Homo sapiens: one gene and its partners. The protein of the gene in region 1 purifies or fractionates together with the protein of each later gene. This does not show direct contact. Each region holds a gene or a part of one and is shown in the gene's direction. Other genes may lie near its edges.

The links.
Region 2: the proteins of CLEC4D (region 1) and P4HA1 purify together in Homo sapiens (affinity purification with mass spectrometry, with the first as the bait; one large-scale study listed by BioGRID). This does not show direct contact.
Region 3: the proteins of CLEC4D (region 1) and RAB10 purify together in Homo sapiens (affinity purification with mass spectrometry, with the first as the bait; one large-scale study listed by BioGRID). This does not show direct contact.
Region 4: the proteins of CLEC4D (region 1) and MYO1D purify together in Homo sapiens (affinity purification with mass spectrometry, with the first as the bait; one large-scale study listed by BioGRID). This does not show direct contact.
Region 5: the proteins of CLEC4D (region 1) and AIF1L purify together in Homo sapiens (affinity purification with mass spectrometry, with the first as the bait; one large-scale study listed by BioGRID). This does not show direct contact.
Region 6: the proteins of CLEC4D (region 1) and ANXA5 purify together in Homo sapiens (affinity purification with mass spectrometry, with the first as the bait; one large-scale study listed by BioGRID). This does not show direct contact.
Region 7: the proteins of CLEC4D (region 1) and GNG12 purify together in Homo sapiens (affinity purification with mass spectrometry, with the first as the bait; one large-scale study listed by BioGRID). This does not show direct contact.

The regions. Positions count from the first base shown.
Region 1 is NC_000012.12:8,519,685-8,522,866, forward strand, and holds the end of CLEC4D (C-type lectin domain family 4 member D), read left to right. Parts: intron 1-541; coding exon 542-657; intron 658-1,439; coding exon 1,440-1,587; 3' UTR 1,588-2,682; downstream 2,683-3,182.
Region 2 is NC_000010.11:73,086,867-73,090,366, reverse strand, and holds part of P4HA1 (prolyl 4-hydroxylase subunit alpha-1 isoform 2 precursor), read left to right. Parts: intron 1-3,500. UniProt on the Homo sapiens protein: Catalyzes the post-translational formation of 4-hydroxyproline in -Xaa-Pro-Gly- sequences in collagens and other proteins.
Region 3 is NC_000002.12:26,121,084-26,124,583, forward strand, and holds part of RAB10 (ras-related protein Rab-10), read left to right. Parts: intron 1-3,500. UniProt on the Homo sapiens protein: The small GTPases Rab are key regulators of intracellular membrane trafficking, from the formation of transport vesicles to their fusion with membranes.
Region 4 is NC_000017.11:32,758,625-32,762,124, reverse strand, and holds part of MYO1D (unconventional myosin-Id), read left to right. Parts: intron 1-1,497; coding exon 1,498-1,643; intron 1,644-1,720; coding exon 1,721-1,835; intron 1,836-1,998; coding exon of another isoform or gene 1,999-2,013; exon of another isoform or gene 2,014-2,313; intron 2,314-3,500. UniProt on the Homo sapiens protein: Unconventional myosin that functions as actin-based motor protein with ATPase activity. Plays a role in endosomal protein trafficking, and especially in the transfer of cargo proteins from early to recycling endosomes.
Region 5 is NC_000009.12:131,110,031-131,113,530, forward strand, and holds part of AIF1L (allograft inflammatory factor 1-like), read left to right. Parts: intron 1-1,566; coding exon 1,567-1,633; intron 1,634-3,500. UniProt on the Homo sapiens protein: Actin-binding protein that promotes actin bundling. May neither bind calcium nor depend on calcium for function.
Region 6 is NC_000004.12:121,670,214-121,672,980, reverse strand, and holds part of ANXA5 (annexin A5), read left to right. Parts: intron 1-354; coding exon 355-448; intron 449-1,338; coding exon 1,339-1,434; intron 1,435-2,767. UniProt on the Homo sapiens protein: This protein is an anticoagulant protein that acts as an indirect inhibitor of the thromboplastin-specific complex, which is involved in the blood coagulation cascade.
Region 7 is NC_000001.11:67,826,968-67,830,467, reverse strand, and holds part of GNG12 (guanine nucleotide-binding protein G(I)/G(S)/G(O) subunit gamma-12), read left to right. Parts: intron 1-3,500. UniProt on the Homo sapiens protein: Guanine nucleotide-binding proteins (G proteins) are involved as a modulator or transducer in various transmembrane signaling systems.

The DNA.
Region 1 (3,182 bases):
ATGTATGGATCTAATGATAAGTAAAGAAATCTTAGGGTAAATTCTTTAAAGGCTAAAATTTATTTCCTCATGTAATATGTTTCCATTTATGTACCATGACTCAGATTCTAACTTTTTCTTGGTTAATAGTTTCCTCAAGGATTTTGTCTCCATAGGTTTACAATGTATAGGTTCGGTAATTCTGAATAAAATGGAATTTAATGAAATATGCACGCAATTAAAGAAGATATTAAAAACAAAACCTCCTAAAAAATCTAATCTTATTAAGCATTGTGCTAAAAGGGTTGCAAGTCTGACCTCACTTAATCTTCCTAGTAACTCTATAAAGTAGTGGAGTTGTCCCTTTTGAAGACAAGAGCACTGGGGGTTTGGTAAGATTGAAGCACTTACTAACATTACAGGCAGGATTTGAAAACAGATCTATCTGATGCCAGAGCTTTTGTGCTTAACCAGTAATCTAGTTGACATATTTCCTCTTTTTCCAACATCATAGCCATCACCTGATTCATGCAACTATATTAAAATTTACATTTTTATGCAGAACTTTATTATTCAGTTTCTGGATAGACGGCTTTCCTATTTCCTTGGACTTAGAGATGAGAATGCCAAAGGTCAGTGGCGTTGGGTGGACCAGACGCCATTTAACCCACGCAGAGTGTAAGTATATTGAGTGGGCTAAGGGGATTTATAAGCAAAGGTTAGAAGATGGTAGCAAGAAACATTCATTTTGAAGTGGAGTACATTGATATAAAAATGTTAAGAGAGACCACTGTAGGTTGAGTAATCTCCATATGCTATGTCCCAGTTCCAGAATGGTCCTATAATTTGCATGCAATTTTCAGTATTCTTATTTGCACAATGTCAATAATGAAAGAATGAATAGCATAGAAGTGATATAAAATTTGTTTTAGGCTTGACATTTAAATAAACAATATAAGCGATAAAAATTTTCTTTGAAAGAGAATCAAAATCTTGTCATTTTCTTTCTTGAAGCCAGTATCGTTTAGTAAAAATATAATGCAAAGCCACATGTGCAATTTAAAATTTTTTGTTAGTTATATTAAGAAAGTAAAAAGAAGCAAGTGAAATGTATTTTAATAACGTATTAATAATGTATTTAACCCAATATATCCAAATCTTATCATTTCAACATGTGATCATTATAAAATTATTACTGAGGTCTTTGACATTCTTCATTGGCACTAAGTCTTCAAAATACAGCACTTAAGACTTAAAGCACATTTCAATTCAGAGAAGCCACATTTCAAGTGCTCAGTAGCTACATGTGTCTAGTGAGTATAGTATTAGTGCAGTTCTAAACTGTTCACTAGGGACATTTCTCTGAATTGTCTCCTAATATATCTATATCTAATCTACACCTATAATCTACATTGTCTATATATACCTATAAATCTCTATCTATGTTGTTGTTCTTTCAGATTCTGGCATAAGAATGAACCCGACAACTCTCAGGGAGAAAACTGTGTTGTTCTTGTTTATAACCAAGATAAATGGGCCTGGAATGATGTTCCTTGTAACTTTGAAGCAAGTAGGATTTGTAAAATACCTGGAACAACATTGAACTAGAAACTCAGAAAGTGGTCCTTGTGATGGAAAGAGAAAAGAAAAACCAATTAGAATAAGGCAGAATGTACGTGCGTCATTGGAACACAGAAAACATGCTGGTTCATACAGCGTTTTTAGTCATAATGGTCTTTTTTATTTTGTTTGATTCATTCGAGACAACATGTGTGTATGTGTGTGTGTGTGTGTGTAGATAATGTGGTTTTTGTATGGTGTTTGATGGAAGGAATAATCTTTCTTTGCTTTCTTAGTAGTATTTCAAGGTGTTTACTTTTCAATTGGTGTGCACTGAATGCATGTATGGAAGAATAGCGTGAATAATGCAATCTCTTTGTCATTTTTCCCCTTCTCAGACTCTTAGCTCTTAAAATTCAAAGATGGGATATTCTAACTGGTAGTGGTGCATCATTTTTAACCCAAATATTGCAAGCACTTTAAAGATTTGAAACCACATTTTTATTGTTTGATGTTTCATTTTCAGACTTTTTAATGTCAGTCATTACAATTACATTGCATGAGGAAAATTTTTCCAGAACAACAGTGTGGAATAGTTCTGAATTATGCTGTTCTACAGATAGAAAAAAAGTCCAAATGCCTTTAAAAATTTACTTCTTACTCCACCCAACACGTTTTTGCAAAGCAAGAAGTCTTTGTAAGACACCTTAAACAAAGTCCTTCAATTCTACAGCAGAGGAAATAAAATCCCCCAGAAGCCAAAGGGCTCACCTTCACATTGTTAGTTCATGACAGACCCAGGTGTGCTTCATTAGAGATAACATACATTCCCTTTGGTATCACAGGAAGTTACTGGGGATTACTCGACCTCATTACTTAGCTAACGACTGGATAAAATTTCTTAATTGTTTGAAGTAACATTGTATTCGTGTTTGCATTATTAATTTGAATAGAAAATAATCACATTTTCAACCCATTTATACAAATTGTTAATGTTTCTTTAGAGCTGTATAACTATAGTTTGAACTAGCAAGGAAGTTATTGTTTTGACAACCAGAAATTATGCTTTTCTGGTGCATGAAACATTAATTGCAAAGGGCAGTCACATCCAACTTTAATAAAATATGGTGGTCTTTCTTAAAATTTTCAATTTGCTAATTTTTCCTGGATCTAAGCTGAAAAATTCCAAGCAACAGCTTTTTAACCTAACTTTCCTACTACTGCTTTTAAAAGCAGTATTTATTTTGTAAATTAGCTACTGATTTTTTGGGTTTGAAATACTGGTGTTTGATTGTGTGGTGGTGGTGGTGGTGATGGATGCGTGTAGCTGTGTTAAAAGCTGATACTTTTAGCTGAAATGGTGCTAAATAAATTTGACTGTGTTTGCCATATTCACTAAATTATGTAGCATGAAACCTATGAAACTTGTTGAAGTAACTTTATGTAAATGCTAGTGGGCTTCGTATAGTTAATATTATCCATTTTTAATTTGTAAAGAACTATATATAGGTTGAGCTTCAGTTGTCAATAAGTCATGAAGTTTTGCCCATGCCTGTGTCCTGAATGGTATTACCTAGGTTTTCTTCTAGGGTTTTTACGGTTTTGGGTTTTACATTTAAGTCTTTAATCCATCTTGAGTTAAT
Region 2 (3,500 bases), on another chromosome or scaffold:
AGCCCAGGAGTTCCAGACCAGCCTGGGCGACATAGAAAGACTTCATCTCTACACAAAATAAAATAACATTAGCTGGGTGTGATGGTGCCTGCCTGTAATCCTAGCTACTTGGGAGGCCGAGGCAGGAGGATTGCTTGAGCTGGGGAGGTTGAGTCTTCAATGAACTGTGATTGTGCTACTGTACTCCAGCCTGGTGACCGAAATGAGTCTCTGTCTCAAAAAAGAGTATACTTGGCCAGGCGCAGTGGCTCACACCTGTAATCCCAACACTCTGGGGGGCCGAGGCAGGAGGACTGCTTGAGCCCAGAAGTTCAAGACCAGCCTGCGCAACATGGTAAAACCCTGTCTCTACAAAAAAATTAAAAAGCCAGGTGTGGTGTTGTGTGCCTGCAGTCCCCGCTACTTGGGAGACTGAGGTGGGAGACTCACCCAAAGCCTGGAGATTAAGGCTGCGGTGAGCCAAGATCACGCTACTGCACTCTAGCCGGGGCATCGGCAGTATCCTTATGACTTTTTGTAATCCCTTCTTTTGCTCCTTACTACCCTCTCTGTATCCCTAGGAAACCATTGTTTCCTTTCTGTTGCTTAAGATTAGTTTTTATTTTCTAGAATTTTATAAAAATGGAATTGTATATACGCTTTTTTTTTTTTTTTTTAGCACGGGGAATCTCCTTACACTCAGCATAATTTGAGATTCATCCATGTTGTTATGTGTTCATAGTTTTTTATTGTTGAATAGTATTTTATTTTATGAATATACCATGATTTTTTTTAACCCATTTACCCTTTGATGGACATTTGGATTGTTTTCACTTTTTGACTATTATGAATAAAGCTGCTATGAGCATTCATGTACAAGTTGTTGGAGAGAGATATGCTTTCTTTTCTCTTATATTAATGCCTAGGAGTGCAATAGCTAGATGTGATAGGGAAATATTTTTTCCCAGTTGTTGGCTTGTCTTCATTCTTTAAACAGTGTGCTTCAAAGAGCAGTTTCTATTCACAGACAACATGTCTGTGACTCTTCAAAAAAGCTCTAGTGAATAGGTTAATTCAGCAGAGTTGTAGCTTAGAAGGTCAATATACAACAGTAAATTGTATTTCTATATACTAATAATGAACAATTAGAAACTAAAGTGAAAAATTCCCATCTCATTAGCACTAAAAACCATGAAATACTTAAGTATTAACTTTTCAAATGGTGTGTAATATTTGTATGTTGAAAATTATGAAACACTGATTATATCATGTTCATGGATTAGAAGACTCAGTATTAAGATACCTACTCTTCTCAAACTGATTTATAGATTCAGCACATTTCTAGTCCAAATCTCAGAGGATTTCTTATAGAAATTAATGAGCCGATTCTAAAATTAATATGGAAAACCAAAGGAACTAGAAAAGCTAAAACAATTTTGAAAAAGAATAACAAAGTTGGAAGATTCATACTACCTGATTTCAACTTAGTTTAAAGCTGCAATAACCAAGACTGTGGTATTGGAGAAAAGATAGACATACAGATCAATTGAACAAAATAGAGAATTTAGTCACACAAAAATTGTCAATTCATTTTGAAAAAGTTTAAGGGCAGTTCAACAGAGGATAGTCTGGAACAGTTGAATATTCATATGCAAAGAAAAAACAATCTTTGTTTTATTTGGGCACCAAGTATCCACTGTTGGACACTGGGCAGTCCCTTGCCCAGGAATTTATGTGAATATTGGGACAAGTGACATGAATCCACCAGTGGATATGAAATAAAGTTTAATCACACAGTAAACAGCAAAAGGACTCCTCAAGGTCAAGGACTTAGGTTTAGTCCAGGATGAAGCAAGAGTGAAACAGGGTGGGTGGCTTTGGTTTTTATTGACCAGAAGGTGGAACTTGTTTGATGGTCCCCATGTGTGGTATTTACATGGTTTCAACTTCACACCAGTACCAAGGGAGGGAATACTGGTCCCCAAGTGTGGTATTTATATGGTTTCAACTTTACACCAATACCAAGGGAGGGAGTACCTGGGCTTTCTTACAGACTTACCCAGATGTGGGACAAAAGGGAGAGAGGTGTGGGACCTGAAGGCAATCTGCACTCAAACATCAAAATGAAATCTTTTTATTAGAGCCTCAATCTGTACTTGACACTGTATGCAAAAATTAGTTCAAAATGGTTCGTAGGCCGGGTCTGGTCGCACACGTTTGTAATCCCAGCATTTTGGGAGGTTGAGGCAGGAGGATTGCTTGAGCCCAGGAGTTTGAGACTAGCCTTGGCAAGAGTGAGACCCGTTTCTATTTTAAAAAATGTTCATAGATTGTGAAGTAAAATGTACAGCTATAAAATATTTGAAAGAAAACATAGGACAAAAATATTTTTGACCATGGGTCAGGCAGAGATTTCTTGGACATGATGCCAAGAACATGATTCATAAATGAACAAACTGATAAATTAGACTTCATCAAAATTAAGAAATTCTGCTCTTCCAAACACACTGTTGAGAGAATAAAAAGACTTCACAGACTGGGAGAAAATATTCCCCATCACATATCTGACAAAAAATAGACTGTATAAGGAACTCAAAGCTGGGCATGGTGGCTCACGTCTGTAATCCCAGCACTTTGGGAGGCCAAGACTGGAGGATTGCTTGAAAATCCAGGAGTTTGAGACCAGCTTGGGCAACATAGCAAGACCCCATCTCTATTAAAAAAAGTAAACAACCTAATTAAAAAGAGCAAAAGATTTGAGTAGACACTATGCAGGAAGGTGTATGAACAGCAGATAAACACCCCAAAAGGTGTTAAACATAGGCCAGGCATGGTGGGTCATGCCTGTAATCCCAGCACTTTGGGAAGCTGAGGTGGGTGGACCATCTGAGGTCAGGAGTTCAAGACTAGCCCGGCCAACATAGCGAAACCGTCTCTACTAAAAATACAAAATTGGTCAGGTGTGGTGGCACGTGCCTGTAATCCCAGCTACCTAGGAGGCTGAGACACGAGAATCACTTGAACCCAGGAGGTGGAGGTTGCAGTGAGACAAGATTGTGCCACTGCATTCCAGCCTGGGCGACAGAGTGAGACTCTGTCTCAAAAAAAAAAAAAAAAAATAAAGGCATTAAACATCATTAGTAATTATGGAATTGCAAATTAAACCCATAATGAGATAGTACTATATGTCTATTGTGAAAATTAAGATATTAAGAGAAACTAAGGAAAAAACGGCAATACAAAATGCTGGTAAGAATGGGAGCAATGGAAACTTTCATCCTTTGCTGTTGGAAGGGCAAATAGTGTAGCTACTTTGGAGAAACGTTTGGCAGTTTTTTATGAAGGTAAATATATACTTGTCATATGACCCAACATTCCCGCTCCTAGGTATTTACCCAAGTGAAATGAGAACTTAGGTTGATTTCCTCTTTTTTTTTTTTTTTTTTTTTTTTTTGAGATGCACTCTCACTCTTTTACCCAGGCTGGAGTGCAGTGACACAATCTCGGCTCACTGCAACCTC
Region 3 (3,500 bases), on another chromosome or scaffold:
GTAATTTTAGTAGAGACAGGGTTTTGCCATATTGGCCAGGCTGGTCTCGAACCCCTGACCTCATGTGATCCACCCACCTCAGCCTCCCAAAGTGCTGGCTTTACAGGCGTGAGCCACCACATGCGGTATAATTTTTCTTTGTTAAGCTTGTGATTCTACTAAGGGTATCGTCCTTGCAACAAAAGAGTTGTTTCCTCCCTAATCCCACCTTTGTCTACCCCCTTTTAAACTGTCATTGACCCTTGAACTGCAGGTTCACTTACACATGGATATTTTTGTTTAAAGAGATGGGGACTCGCAGTGTTGCCCAGGCTGGTCTCAAACTCCAGGGGTCAAGTGATTCTTCCTTCTCAGCCTCCCAAGAAGCTGGGATTACAGGTGTGTGCCACCACACCCAGCTCTATAAACAGGTTTTTAAAAACAAATCTTTTGGAAAAAATGTTAGAGACTTGCAACAACTTGAAAAACTCACAGACAAGCCACATAACCTAGAAATATTGGGCGGGGGGGAAATTAAGAAAAAGTTAAGTATATTATGAATGTCTAAAGTATATGTAGATACTAGTCTATTTTATTACTACCATAAAACATACACAGATCTATTATTAAAAGTTTAAATTTATTAACACTCAAACACACAGAGCCCATACAAGGCACCTTTTGCATCAAGAGAAATGTAACAGAGATGCAGTATTAAATCATAATTGCATAAAAATAACTAATACATACTGTACTACTGTGATAATTTTGTAGCCACCTCCTGTTGCTATTTTGGTGAGCTCGTATGTTTCCAAGTGTCTGCTTAAAACACCATGTGATGTGGATCATCTCCCCGTGAACAGTTTGTGTCTCCAGTAAATCCCATATTGCAATCAAAAGAGGTCTTTTGTGGTTCTTGCGTGTTTTCATCGTGTCTAGTGCAATACCATAAACCTTGAATAACACCATCAGACCTATACAAAGTGCCACTAGTGATGCCAGAAGCAATCCTGAGAAACAGAAAAGTCATGACATTACAAGAAAAAATTGAATTGCTTAATATGTACTGTAGAATGAGGTCTGCAGCTGTGGTTGCCCGTTATTTCAAGATAAATTAATCCAGCATAAGGACCATTTTAAATAAAAGAAAATTTGTGAAGCCATCACTGCAGCCACAGCAGGAGGTGTGAAACCTTGCACTTTTTACAGAATACCTTTTTATCTCATGTTGAAAATGCAGCTCTTATGTGGGTACAGGATTGCTATAAGAAAGGCATACTTGTAGGCTGGGCGCGGTGGCTCACGCCTGTAATCCCAGCACTTTGGGAGGCCAAGGCGGGCAGATCACGAGGTCAGGAGATCGAGACCATCCTGGCTAACACGTTGAAACCCCGTCTCTACTGAAAATACAAAAAATTAGCCAGGCGTGGTGGCGGGCGCCTGTAGTCCCAGCCACTCGGGAGGCTGAGGCAGGAGAATGGTGTGAACCCGGGAGGCAGAGCTTGCAGTGAGCTGAGATCACACCACTGCACTCCAGCCTGGGCGACAGAGCGACTCTGTCTCAAAAAAAAAAACAAAAAAAAAGGGCATACTTGTAGACTATGATATTCAAGAAAAAGTGAAGTTATTATATGACAACTTAAAGCAAAACGGAAGAGAAGCTAGAGGAGTTAATGCCAGCAAAGAATGGTTTGATAATTTTAGAAAGAGGCTTGGCCTAAAAATGGCAGGCTAACAGGAGAAGCAGCTTCTGCTGACTAAGACACAGCAGACAAGTTCCTGGGCACCGCTGAACAAGTCTTTAATGCAGTTAAAAGTGTCCTATTCTCGGGGTGGCAGGGAGGGGGGCAGGCCACAAAGGACATGAGTGTTAGGAAAAGAAGAAAGCACAGGGAATTAAGGCAGGAAGGGATAGGCTAACTACTGTTCTGTGCAAATGCAATTGGGTTTATGATCAGGACTGACTGCCCTTACGTATAAAGTTGCTAACCCCCAAGACCTGAAGGGAAAAGTCTTTTGAAGCTGCCAGTTTTTTGATCATTCAACAAGAAGACCTGAACACTGAGAATCCTTTTTCTGGATTGGTTCCATCAATACTTTGTCCCTGAAATCAGGAAATACCTTGCCATTATGGGACAGCCCTTTAAAGTTCTTTTGATGTTGGACAGTGCCCCTGGCCACCCAGAACCCCATGAGTTTAACACCGAAAACATTGAAGTGGTCTACTTGCCCCCGAACACAGTCTCTAATTCAGCATCTAGATCAGGGGATCATGAGGACCTTTAAGGTTAATAACACACGGTACTCTAACCTCAATAGAACATCATGAAAATCTGGAGGAATTACACCGCTGAAGATGCCATCGTTATAGAAAAAGCCATGAAAGCCATCAAGCACAAAACAGTAACTTCCTGCTGGAGAAAACTGTGTACCGATGTTGAGCATGATTTCACAGGATTTGTAGCAGAGCCAGTCAAGGAATTTATGAAAGAGACTGTGGATAAGACAAGAGCTAATAGACATCAACCAGAGGAATCAACAGAAGATGATTTAATGAAGATGCCGGTGCTTCCAAACCAGCGTTGGACGATAAGGAAGAAGGCAAAGAAGTAGTGCCAGAAAACAAATTGACTGTAGACAATCTGGCAGAAGGGTTCTGATTATTCAAGACTGCTTTAGACTTACTGTACAACATGGACCATTGTGTGATACAGGCACTGAAACTGAAGCAAATGATGAAAGAAGGATTGGTTTTGTATAGAAATATTTTTAAAGAAATGAAAAAGCAAAAAAGAAATTACAATGTTTTTCCGTAAAGTTAAACTGAGTGTGCCTGCCTCCCCTTCCACCTTCTCTACCTCTTCTGCCTCTGCCTTCCCTGAGACAGCAAGACCAACCCCCTCCTCTTTCTCCTCCTCAGCCTACTCAATTTGAAGACATTGAGGATGAAGACCTTTATGATGATCCACTTCCACTTAATGAATAGTAAATATATTTTTCTTCCTTATGATTTTCTTAATAACATTTTCTTTTCTCTAACTTTATGGTAAGAATACAGTATAGAATACATATATAAAATATGTTAATCGACTGTTACTGATAATACTTCTGGTTAGCATCAGGCTGTTACTAATTAAGTGTTTGGGGAGTAAAAGTTATACATGGTATACCCTTACCCCCATTGTTCAAGGGTCAACTGTATGTTGTTTTAAATCAGCATATTTTATAACTTTCCTAGTTTTTTTTTTTCTTATAGCTACAGGAAATGAAGTAACCGCAGCCATTTGGCAGTTTTGTTGCTGTTGTTTTTCTTATTGTTGTTGTTGCTTTTTTTTTTTTTTTTTTTTTTTTTTTTGAGACAGGTTCTTGCTTTGTTGCCCTGGCTGGAGTGCAGTGGCAGTGATAATAGTTCACTCCAGCCTTGAGCTCTTGGGCTCAAGTGCTCCTCCTGCCTCAGCTTCTTAAAGTGTTGGGATTACAGGCATGAGCCCCCGTGCTCAGCCTATTGTTGTTTTTGAATA
Region 4 (3,500 bases), on another chromosome or scaffold:
CAAGTATCACTTTCCCAGAGAGGCCTTCCCTAACCTTCCTGAGCACTGCATAGATTAAATTTCCCTAAGACCCCATGTACCTCTCCTTTAGTGTGGATGTTTATCTGCGAGGTGGGGGGCAAGTGAGAGAGACAGAGAGAATAATTTTTTCCTTCACTCTATTCCCTAAGTTTCTTGGACATTGAGACTATGTTTGTGTTTGCCTAGACCTGTATCTCTAACAAACTATATATAATAAGTATTCAGCAAATATTTGTTGAATAAATCAGTGAATTTCTAAGTGGTGCTATTTATTTGTGGCTAAAAGTAGGATAGGAACAGTTGTTGGAAGAGGAAAGATCAAGAGTCCTTTGAGTTTGAGATGGCTGTGAGCCATTGAAGAGTCAGTGTCAGGTAGACAGTCAAGCTCTTGAGTCAGGAGCTCAGAGACTGTTCTCTGAGTCTGGATTTGGATAATACTTTTGGGAGTCATATTATATTTGTATTATTTAATCCTGGGTGAGATGATTTAGAAGGTGCTAGAGAGTGAAGAGAAGAGGACCAGGAAGAACTCCAACTTTTACAAGTCAGGTAGAAGAGGAGACTCTACCAAAGGTCACCAAAAAGGAACATCCAGTGAACAAAGAGTAAAATTCAGAAAGGCTATTATCCGAAATCCAGAGAGAAGAGTGTTCCAAGAAGGCAGTGAAAACCTAGGTTGAGTGATGCTGAGCGACAGAGCAAGATGTCCATATGAGGTACGAGAAGTATCTATGTAGAGGTGCTGGGAGTCTTTGATGAGCCATTTCAATGGAGTAATAGGATGTAAGTGGAGACTGGAGTGGATTGAAGAGTAAAGGGGAGGTAATGGATATGGGTGAAGAGAGTGGGTAGCTGGCAGGAGACGTTAAGGAAGGTTTTCTAACGATGTGACGTTGCAGAGCACATGTGTATCGGGATGTGAATGTGTGTTAGCGTGTGGCACCTTTGTCCATGTGTGGCTTAGTGTGTGTGTTCTTGTGCATTGGATGTGTGTTCGATTCTCAGGGAATTTCAACCCTTGATCTTTGGCTCAGATCTTCATTTAGCATTAGAAATCAATATTTATATTTTTTAGAATTCATATAGCTTTAGTGGATCATAGATATTAACTCACTAGCTCTCAACTCTTTATAGTTGATGAAATTAATAATAAAGCAATGAACTGGCTTATTCAAGGGATCAGGCAAACTATTGATATAGCCGGGCAGGGAAACATGCCTGGAGAGTGTCGTTGGAATTGGTATAATGACCGGTAATAATCTTTTAAAAATACAAGCTATTTACTTTAGTTTTGCATACATCAGGTAGTTTGGGTTTTTTTAAATGGACAGTCTACATTTTCATTTGTTCTGCTGAGGCCAGTAATGGCTATGCTAAACAGTGAGAAGGTGGACAGGAATTTAAAACTGATCACAAATCCAAACAGAGGACTCATTCCCAAATTGGCAAGCATTTATGATGCTATTTTCCTTGCAGGCAATATATGAGCGCCTTTTTTGTTGGATCGTTACTCGCATCAATGATATTATTGAGGTCAAGAACTATGACACCACAATCCATGGGAAAAACACTGTTATTGGTGTCTTGGATATCTATGGCTTTGAAATCTTTGACAACAACAGGTAAACTGGAAAAGATACTTAAAACCTTGTTGCCTGTTTTCTATTTGTTGAAACTTAATTTATTCCTTTTCTTGTAGTTTTGAACAATTCTGTATCAATTACTGCAATGAGAAACTGCAGCAGCTATTTATTCAGCTGGTTCTGAAGCAAGAACAAGAGGAATACCAGCGGGAAGGGATCCCCTGGAAACATGTGAGTGGACTCTTATGGAAAATGCCTTCATGTGTTTCTCATATTATTGATAATGTCAAATTTTATTTTAGGTATTTCTTGATCTTTTGGGGGTATTTGAAACATCTGAACCTTAGCTTTCCTTTTTGGGATATGTAAATACAATTAATTTCATCATTTTTAGGTGGGATTGCTATAATTTGATAGACTGCCTTGTTGATGCCCAGAACATCCTGAGTTAGAACCAGTAAACCTGTTTTCACTTTATGGCTGCTACCACGTGGACTTACTGGTTTATATCTGTCTGTTAGGTTTAGCATACTTTATTAAGTTATACCTTAAATTGGCTGAACTTTGCTTCAGAATCTAGTTTCTTCTTCCCTTTTTCCTCCTTTTTCTCCTCTTCTACTTTGTAGACTATATGGTATTTTATTGTCTTCAGTTAATGTTGTTTATATTCTCTGAAACCTACACATTAAAATACTTGTTTTACTTTGCATTTTCTTGTGTATTACACTTCAATTATCACCTCTACTCTAATCAATCTTTGGGAACTTTTGTATTTGTCAGAGGCAAACTAATCTGGTAAGATATAGCTGGAAAGTATAATGGGTGCACAGTGCAAACCACAGAGATCAAAGCTAAAAGGCATGACTTGTTTGGTTTTTAAATTTCCTGTGATAAGACCTTCTGTTTATGATAGAAATGAGACATAGTAATTTTTCTTGTAAGTTTGTATTTTTAAGCAATTTTGAGAATAAACTTGAAAAATACAAAAACTTTTAAGTTTCTGTAGTTTGAGTTTATATGATTGTTCATCCTCTTGCCAGAGAATAGAAATGAAGCCAGTATTTGTTTTTTGTTATCCAATATAATAGCAGCAAAAAAATATTTGAAATACTATATTTAAATGACTTTTATCTTCCTTCCTACCTATTTTCTATTTCCTCTCATTCTGAAATAAAGAGACAGTGATATAACAAATAGCTTTCCCGCCTCAAAATTGTATCTGCCTTCCATCATGTGTTAAACGTTAGAATACCATAAAACAGTTGCTCAGGTATATTGGCATAAATTTTACCTATCTGCATATAAACCAAAGGGCTATTTTATATAAGAATTATCTATAGTTTGACTTAAATAATGAACTCTCCTAATACAATTAAAATTTAATTCAGTTCAATTAAGTGTATATGAAGCTTTCTAAGAATGAAACTGTTGTATAATATAATACACGGTATAACTGAAGCTTGGATTTTTAATACCAAATTTAATCATAAAACTTGTTATTCAAATGTGATTCCAAGGTACTAGTCAAAAATATCCTTTCACAATCAGAATATCAAATTTCACAGACATAATTGACAACAGGGTAAGTAATGCAGTGGACTGTTCCAAACATCTCAAAAAGAATTAAGAATCCCAAAATGCAAAAAATTTTCGCTAAATAAACCAAGAACTATTTGTCCTAGAGGGAGCAGAAGGCTAACTCCAAGGTAACAGTTACTTACTACATGGCAGATCCCCCCACAATTAGAATCTCTATTCTGGGTAAAACCCCAAACTTCTAAACATAGTGATTCTTTTTAAAAGATTTTTTATTATGGAAAATTTTAAACACACATTAAGAAGACAGACTATAGTACAGTAAACCCTATATACCCATCACCTGGCTTTAACACGTAC
Region 5 (3,500 bases), on another chromosome or scaffold:
GAAACCCTGTCTCTACAAAAAATACAAAAATAAGCCAGCCGTGGTGTGGCGCCCATCTGTAGTCCCAGCTACTCAGGAGGCTGAGGTGGGAGGATCACTTGAGATCGGGAGGCGGAGGTTACAGTGAGCTGAGATTGCATCACTGCATTCCAGCCTGGATGACAGAGCAAGACCCTGTTTCAAAATAATAATAACAATAGCTCCCTCTTGGGACTCCTAGGAGATGTGAAGAGATCACATAGGTAAGGGCTTCACCCTGGAGGCCATTGTTAGTGTCCAATCCTCCCCACCCTGCCCATCTGGTCCTGAAAGGACTCATTTGAGTCTCTCCAAGCATCTGAAGGGAAGGCAGGCCAGAGATTAAAACCCCCATTTTACAGGTGAGGAAACAGGTGAGAGGGTAAGTGTACAGTCATTTTCCCGTTAGAGCAGAGACGACGAATTCACACTCTCACTGGATTTCTTTTTTCTTTTCTTTTTTTTTTTTTTTTAAGATGGAGTCTCTCTCTGTCTCCCAGGCTGGAGTACAGTGGCATGATCTCAGCTCACTGCAACCTCCACCTCCCAGGTTTAAGCTATTCTCCTGCCTCAGCCTCCCAAGTAGCTGGGATCACAGGTGCCCACCTCTATGCCCAACTAATTTTTGTATTTTTATAGAGACGGGGTTTCACTATGTTGGCCAGGCTGGTCTCGAGCCCCTGACCTCAGGTGATCGGCCCACCTTGGCCTCCCAAAATGCTGGGATTACAGGCGTGAACCGCCGCACCTGGCCTCACTGGATTTCTATACAAACTCAAGAAGCAGATCATGATTCTCATTTGGTAGATAAGGCAATAGAAGTGTGGGGAGGGCCGGGCGCGGTGGCTCACACCTGTAATCCCAGCACTTTGGGAGTCTGAGGCGGAGGGGTGGGAGCGGGGGGATCAACTGAGGTCAGGAGTTCGAGACCAGCCTGGCCAACATGGTGAAACCCCGTCTCTACTAAAAATACAAAAATTAGCTGGGCATGGTGGCAGGCGCCTGTAATCCCAGCTACTGGGGAGGCTGAGGCAGGAGAATCGCTTGAACCCAGGAGGTGGAGGTTGCAGTGAGCTGAGATCGCGCCATTGCACACCAGCCTGGGGGACAAGAGCAAGACTTCTTAAAAAAAAAAAAAAAAAAGTGCACGGAGGAATGAATGAGCTCAGGATCACATTCCTAAGAAGTTAATGATGGAACCAGGGGCTTGTCTTTGGAGCTCACAGCTTCTCGGATCTGAAGCTGGGGTGTCTTGGGGGAGGGGCACGGGTCCCAGCATTGGTAATGTAGCTGCTGGCTGGAGGGCTTAGTCACCCGTAGTGAACCCTCTGGGGCCTCCCCAAGCTGCTGGGCAAACTTCCTACCCACAGGGTGGCCAGTGCAGATCTGCCTCCAAGGGGCGACAGGAAGCCGGGGTGAACAAGGGACAAACTGGGTCTGGTCGCACCTGGTTACCCGATAGGAGGGAAGGCCCCCGGACAGTGGGCCCATGTGTGGGTGACTTCTGTCCCCAGTCCCTTGCTCAGCACTGTCCTCTCACCTCTGTAGGAGTTTCTGTGTGACCAGAAGTACAGTGATGAAGAGAACCTTCCAGAAAAGCTCACAGCCTTCAAAGGTAAGCTGGGGCGGGCTGCCCTGCATTTATTCCTGGGGGAGGTGGGCTGGCCCCTCATCCTTGCACACAGGACCCCTCAGCCCCACAGGACTAGGCTGTGGCCCTGTTTTGTCCAGAATGCCCTTCTTCCTGGAGAAGGCTTGGAGACAGGGACCCCCTGAGAGGTGGGGAGAGGCCCCTCCACCTGCCTCCCTGCCCCTGCGGGCCCCGTCACCCCTCGCCTGCAGCCCGGTCCTGGCCCTGCCCCTCTCTCTCCCCTCACTGCCCACGGGGCTCAGGCTGGTTCCCGTCCGCCGCTGCCCAGGCCCCGTCACTCCCGGGCCCCGCACACAATCAGCTCTTTGTGAGCAAGCCTTGCCTCTCCCCCTCCCCAGCAGAGCGTCTCAGGAGCCCCTGCGGAGAATGGACGTTTGTGTCACCGCAGTGGGGCAGGGGGGCAGAGTTTCTGCCCATTGAAACCCGGCAGCACGGGATGAAAAGAAAGCAGGGCCTGGGAGCCGGCGCGGGGAGAGGGGCAGCATAAAGGTCCCTCTGTTTGGGGCCCTGGCGCTTGGTTCCCAGCCAGCACCTCGAAAGGAGAGGAGCCGGGCACATAGGGGGCAGCGCAGACCCACCTTCCCTGCCAGGGGAGGCACTTAGGCGCAGGAGCCCTGGGCTGTCATGGAAAATATCCTGGAGGTTGCATTCCCCTCCAAAGTGTTTGCAGTGTGAGCATCCTCCCGGCTCCAGGGCAAAGAACTTGGCCAAGTGTTCCTCAAATCACTTCCAGTTGTCCTTAGGCTGGACATCTAGGGCTAATCATATTAATAACAGCTGGCATTTGTTGGACGTCGGCCTGTGTGAAGCACTTCTCGTGCGGCGTGGCGAGCTCCCCACATCACCCCAATCGGCCTGGAGGAAGATGGCGCACTTGTTAATGTGCAGATGGAGAAACTCGGGCTTGGAGGGCGGGGTTGTTGGCATGGGGACACATAGCTCGCCTAGGGCAGAGTTGGGACTTGAACTCATGTCGGTCTGGCTCCAAAGCCCCTGCTCTCAACTGTTACGCTATGATGCTTTTTACATGAAGAAGAGAGAAGGGAAATAGTAAAAGACACTCCTGACCCCACCCCATCCCAGCCACCTGTAGGAGAGCTGTGAAAAAGAGAGCAGTCTATTCCCTTCTGTCTGCATACCAGCGTGGCCACTCCCAGGGGTGGCTCTGGGAGGAGGCACGGGTCTCAGGGCTCTGGCACCCTTTCTACTTGTCTTCACTGGAATGTTGGGCCAGACAGGAAGTTACATCATTCACTCATTTGTTCTCCAAATGCGCACCTGTACATGTGCCAGGACCATTCCAGGCCAGGGGCACCATGGTGAACGTAAAAGGCAGCTCCCACCCGGGAGCCTGTGTTCTCGCTCGGGGGGCGGTGTGAGAGGTGGTGGGAGACTAAACAGAGAGCCGGGAAATACAAGGTTAGCAGACTGTGGTAGGTGCTTCAGTGAGAAATGAGGGAGGGAGGACAGGAGTGCTCAGCTGTGGGGAGGGGGTGCAATTTTGAAAGGGTGGGGAGGCCAGGCACGGTGGCTCACACCTGTAATCCCAGCACTTTGGGAGGCCGAGGTGGGTGGATCACCTGAGGTCGGGAGTCCAAGACCAGCCCGGCCAACATGGCGAAACCCCATCTCTATTAAAAATACAAAAATTAGCTGTATGTGGTGGTGGGTGCCTGTAATGCCAGCTACTCGGGAGGCTGAGACAGGAGGATTGCTTGAACCCAGGAGGCAGAGGTTGCAGTGAGCTGAGATCAAGCCACTGCACTCAAGCCTTGGTGACAGAATGAGACTCCATCTCAAAAAAAAAAAAAAAAAAAAAAAGCATAATGGT
Region 6 (2,767 bases), on another chromosome or scaffold:
TATACATGGATGTATCAACAGTGAGGTAGTCATAACTTTCTCCTGACCCATACTGTTGCTTCTGAAAGATTGGAGGTTATGGCAGACATTTTGGGAACATGTAACCTTGCACCATTGCCGTGCTTTGTTGCTTGGACCCATGAATCTTCTGTGGCACAGTTCAGTGGCAAGCTCCAAAGGTGCTCCAAACTCAGTGAGCTGAGTTTCAGAGTAGGACACATTAGAAATGAAAACTATTAATACAAGATGATGAATCAAGTGAGTTAAAATTCAGGGAGTAAAAAACAAGTGTGTTTAAGAACCTGGAAATGAGATGGAGGAACAATTTATTAATTGAGTTTGAAATTTTTGCAGGCTTTATTTCAGGCTGGAGAACTTAAATGGGGGACAGATGAAGAAAAGTTTATCACCATCTTTGGAACACGAAGTGTGTCTCATTTGAGAAAGGGTGAGTGAAAAAAATCTGTATGGGGCAGATACATTGGTAAATTTGGAAAGTGCATGAGCCAGTGTGACAGAATACCTGCTACATAGCAGGGACTTAGAGAATGAATCAGTTTTTGTATTTCTTCCTTTTGGTGACCTGGAGAAATCTCAACATTGTTTTTGCTGCTGTTGTAGCTTTTACAAACTAGAGATCCTGAGTCCACCCTTCACTATTGGAGGATGGCAAGGGAGGTCAGTTCTCTAGATTGTTCCTCTCATAGTCACACATCACTGAATAGTGGCTCACTACACGTATTTCCTCCTAGAGGTTGGTACCCAGGACCTTATCTCTGGATAGTCATCAGCACTTGTGGTATCAGTTGGGAATGAATTTAGTGCAAGTGACAGAGAACCCTAATAGTGGCTTTAAAAATTGGGCTTTTTTTCCAGAGGTGGGATTCCATGGTTGATTTGGCAGGACCTGAGATCTTTCTGGTTTTTCTTTTTGCTCCATTATCCCTAGTGTTTTGGTTTTCTTTCTTCATTATCATAAGATGTCTGCTCTAGCTCCAAACTTAACCATTTCACAGCAGGAAGGAAAGAAAAGGGTAAACTAGTCCTATCTGTGTATCACTTTTTGTAAGTGAGGAGATTTCTCAGCATCCCCTCCAGTAGATTTACCTTTAGGTCTCATTGGCTATAACTCGTAAGGGGGCTGGCAATCAGTGAACAAAGTATATTTACAATCCATTGCTTAGGGCTTGGCACATTGAGGCTTTGAGCACAAGGTTCTGTCAGCAAGGAAGAAGGGGAGATTTGTGTTCAGTAAGACACTACCTAATCAAAGTAAATACCATCTTTCTGGAAAGAGTGATCCCTACATGATTAGGGAATCATTTTTATTTTTTCTAGTGTTTGACAAGTACATGACTATATCAGGATTTCAAATTGAGGAAACCATTGACCGCGAGACTTCTGGCAATTTAGAGCAACTACTCCTTGCTGTTGGTAGGTGATTTACAATGTATTGATATTTTTGGTGGTAAGAGCTAAAGCATTTTATTCAATTGAGGCTGCATCTGAAAATAACCACCTAGGTGTGAAGGAAGAGCTTGATATGATATTTAGGGGAAGCAAACTCCCAAATTTCCAATTCAGAAATTTATTTTGATGTTGGAAATACAGGATTGTCTGGTTAGTTCATCTAAATCCTATGGAAATACTAAGATAATTGTTTAAAAATCATTTTGAAGCTGCATTAAAAATATTATTTATTGATAAACCTGAAATGTCGTGGACATTATCTCAGAGGCTTGTAAACATTATTTCTGATACCTGTGGAATTTTAGAATTTTTTTGAATACTGTTCTCTCAGCTTTGAGGCAGACTAAGAAATTGTCATCTGGTTTAGAAAAGAAGAATATCTTTGATGTAATAGAAGATGTGATGATGGTTGTTTTCAAATTAAATAATTTAGTTTTATTTTAATTAAATATTCAGAATAATCTGGAAAAATTGGAGAACTGAATCTGTGCAGTTGATTGCAGTATTATGTACTCCAAAGCTAGGGAGAATCTAGTTTGTGAGTCTCCTGTGGTCCTTTTGTTCATATGGGTCTGCAGTGAGCCTCTGTCTGCTGTTTGTTCCAAGTATTTGGCCTTGAGCTCACACTTTTGTGCTCTCTGTCTTCAGGAGACTAAGCTAAAGATCTGCATGAACCAACTCTAAAAGTAGCCTTTCACTTGAGTACACAGTTAATGTACTTTTACCAGAAAACTTTTAGACAGGTCCTTCATAATTAGAATACGCATACAAATTAAGACATTTTCAGTTACTGGTGGCTGTTTTTCTTAAGACTTAGAAAAGGGAGAATTAAGAAATCTCCACATGCAAGGATTATTTTTGTATATTAAGGAATTTTCATGATAGATTTTCTGAAGCTAAGCAGACTGAGGTCTGAGCAGCCCCAACCTACATTCAACATGTACATGTTCAGAGAAGAGATCCTTTCTGATATTGATTTATCTGTTTTTGTACTGAAATGGATAAATCTCATGCTGCTCTGTGTGAATCATTGATATTAAAGAATATGTAGAGAGTATAGGAAGATCACCCAAGAGTTTAAAAAAATTAGGTAGTAATCTTGTATTATTTGCTTTAATGTCTTGGAATGAAAACTTCCAAGGGATTTGTGTAATTTATTGGTGATGAAGAATGTTGTGGTATTATGATAACAATCCAGGCTGCCCAAACTGCAGTATCCAAAAAGTCTTCACAGAACCAAGGCGCATAGAAAAACCTGTGCCCTTATTCTCCATGCCTTTCTATGCAGACCTCAGAA
Region 7 (3,500 bases), on another chromosome or scaffold:
CAAGGCCAACAGATAAGCCATAAGAAGTGTTAGGCTGATTGTGAGTCGTTGTTTTATTTGTAAACTTTCATGAGATTGGGTGTTCAGTTAATTCAGGAAATCTACTCATCACATTGTTGACTCATTTCCTAAAATCTAAAAAATTTTTTAAATGCCTTCATCTTGCCAGGCGCTGTGGCTCACACCTATAATCCCAGCACTTTGGGAGGCCAAGGTGGGCGGATCACCTGAGGTCGGGAGTTCAAGACCAGCCTGACCCACATGGAGAAACCCCATCTCTACTAAAAATACAAAATAAACCAGGCGTGATGGCGCATGCCTGAAGTCCCAGCTACTCGGGATGCTGAGGCAGGAGAATCACTTGAACCCAGGAGGCGGAGGTTGCGGTGAATCGAGATCGTGCCATTGCACTCCAGCCTGGGCAACAAGAGCAAAAACTCTGTCTCAAAAAAAAAAAAAAAAAAAGCCTCCATCTTTAAAACAAACCCTTTAAAGCTTCTTGTTTTTGTCCTAATGCACGTCAGGTGCACAGAATTGGGCTGAACCAGGATCTTAGCTCATGCCACAGATGATTTCTCATTTTACTAATTGCTCCACTGGGACACAGAGATGTGGTTTATAATAATTTTAAATAACTATAAAGGGTACAGTGTGATTATTAATTGTTTCTTGCCTATGACATTATGCTCTGAAACAACTGAAGCATTTGATTGAGTAAATTATTGATTCGTTTCACTCCTAGAACATAACATAATGATTTCTGGCTCATACTTCTAGGTGAGTAGACTGTGAGCAAGTTACTTAATCTATGCTTCAATAAGTGTTGTGAGGAATAAATGAGCTAATCTATGTATATAGCATTTGGAATAGTGCCTGGTGCATAGTCCACATTCAATAAATGTTAACATTAAATTATTGAAATTTTCTCTAAATGTTGTATAATGAGCATGCATTATTTTTGTAACAGGAAAACAGCTATACAAAATTTTAATATTTCCCCCAAATCTAAAAAAAGCTCAGTAATTTAAATAGTCCTGCCAAATAGTACTTAAAAAGTAAGAGAATTAGACAATCATCATTTTGTCTTTTAAATGTGAAATGGTTTGCAATATTAATTTGTTAAACAAGTTAATTCTTCCAAATCTCAATTCCATTTTCTTTTTTATTAGAGACTTTAAAAAATCAGTAATACATGAAGTCTGTTACAGTTTAAAATGGGGAAAAGCAGTATGCACAGTTACATTGTGTTATTACAATTACAGCTAGCTTAAAAATTATTTTTAAACCATAAGAAAAGCCTAGAAGAAAATACAGACAAATTGGTGATGGGATTATGGTGCTCTCCCACCCCCAACCTGCTTTTCCCCTATTTTCCACAATGCGCCTATATATATACTAAAATATAATTCATTTGTGTAATAGTTACTAAACAAATCTGGTTTATTAACTACAAATACTAAAAAAAATTTGCGTAATAGTTACTAAAAAACAAATCTGGCTTGTTAACTACAAATAGCAGGATTTTATTGTTGTTTTGGAAAAAGCACCAACTTTATGGCAGTTGAATGTCCTTCGGTTAAATGTCAAAACCTTTGCAGTGAGAATTGTTTAGCGGTAAAAGAGAAGGCCTTTCAGAAGCTTGTAGTTTGATCTTCATGAAGAATATTTGAAAAGTCTACCAGTGGGTTTTTAGGATCTGCATATAGACCTAGTCCACCAACCTTGACTTTATGGAAGTTGTGACTTCCCAGATCCAGGCCTGCCTTGATGAGCTGCGTTTTTACAGCACCTTCAGTATATCAGACACCTGGAAGACAGTAATGAGGCAGATATTGGTGCACTTAGTTTAACAGGAAGGTTGGATAGATAAAAACTAATTACAGCACAATTGTATATATTATATATCCTGAGCCCTTTCTAAACTCTTCCCGTATACAGTCTTGCTCAGTTGTCACAACAGCCCAGAGGAGGAAGCTGAGGTTCCTTAAAGGTCTGAACCTTGCTCAAGTTGCAAGGACAGAATTTGACCCAGAAGCATCTTAACTCCACATCTCATGCCCTCTGCACGGAGATGGAGGTGCATCCAGCCAGAGGTGAGAGTGAAGTGGGCTTTATGGAGTCAGTTTTGCTTAAAAACTATAAAACTAATCAAGAGAAACATGAGGAGGAGACTCCTTTTAGGTGACCTTCCTGAGGAGAATCATCAGTGCCTCTCCATCAGGCTTGCCACTCTTTAGCCATAGCAGTTAACACTTCCAAATGGCTGCTGAGACCCAGCAGGCCTGAAGCGCACACAAAGGCCCAGTCCTTGGTGACCCTGTGAAGCCTACCTCTTTCATCCCTGGACTTCCAAAGGGGGTCTGGATAGTACAGATGAAGGAACTGACTCGCTAAATCCTGTTCTAGAACCAGCACATACCCACAGATCCTGACCTCCCCACTTTCCTCCCTTAGGAATGACAGGAGAGTAGTTAACAGGTAGCATGGATCCAGGGCAGATGGTGGAGGTGACTTGACTTAAGATAACTTGTAGCTAGATTATTCCATTTATTGGAGAGTCTCTCTTGAAAATCATATCTGATGTCACTTAAGTGTTTGGTTTATCATGTTAGTCTTTATTGGGTGTCGTAAAAGTGCTCAGTTGTGAAGTGTCTGGTTACCATCCTGTGACAAGGAGGGTTTTTGTCTTCTTTTAATGGGTCTGCATTTCAGAGAATTACTGTATAATAAAAACTGGAGTGTTGGCTGGGTGCAGTCGCTCACGCCTGTAATCCCAGCACTTTGGGAGGCCGAGGCGGGTGGATCACAAGGTCAGGAGAGCGAGACCATCCTGGCTAACATGATGAAACCCCGTCTCTACTAAAAATACAAAAAATTAGCCGGGCGTGGTGGCGGTCGCCTGTAGTCCCAGCTACTTGGAAGGCTGAGGCAGGAAAATGGCGTGAACCTGGGAGGCAGAGCTTGCAGTGAGCCGAGATCGTGCCACTGTACTCAAGCCTGGGCAACAGAGCAAGATGCCATCTTAAAAAAATAAAAAAAAAAACTGGAGTGTTGGAGACTGTTAAGAATTAATACTTTCAGTTCTGCCAGAGGGTTAGTATCTAGAAGTTCTAAGAGATTGGTTGCTAAAATCTTCTGTAATTTTCAGTTTCATTGATTGTATAATAAGTGGGTGACTTTGGGCCCAGAGAGTCAGAAGGCTTTGTATTCTGTATGCTTTCTGACACAGTAGGCCACCACTCCCCTTGCAGGCAAGGTCATGTAATTGACATAGGATCCCCTTTAGTTGACCGAAGAGAGAAGTATAAGCTCTGGTTGAACTTGAGTTTGCGTGATCACACATGCTCACTGGAGTGAAGTCTGAATCAGTTGCCATCTCTGCACTTGCATTGTGTGTAGAGAATTGTCTTGATTCAGAATGGCTTTGTGCAAACTCACATGAGCCCATTGGAGGCAGAATCTTAACTTCATTGATGTGAAATAATCAGGCTTTTATTTAG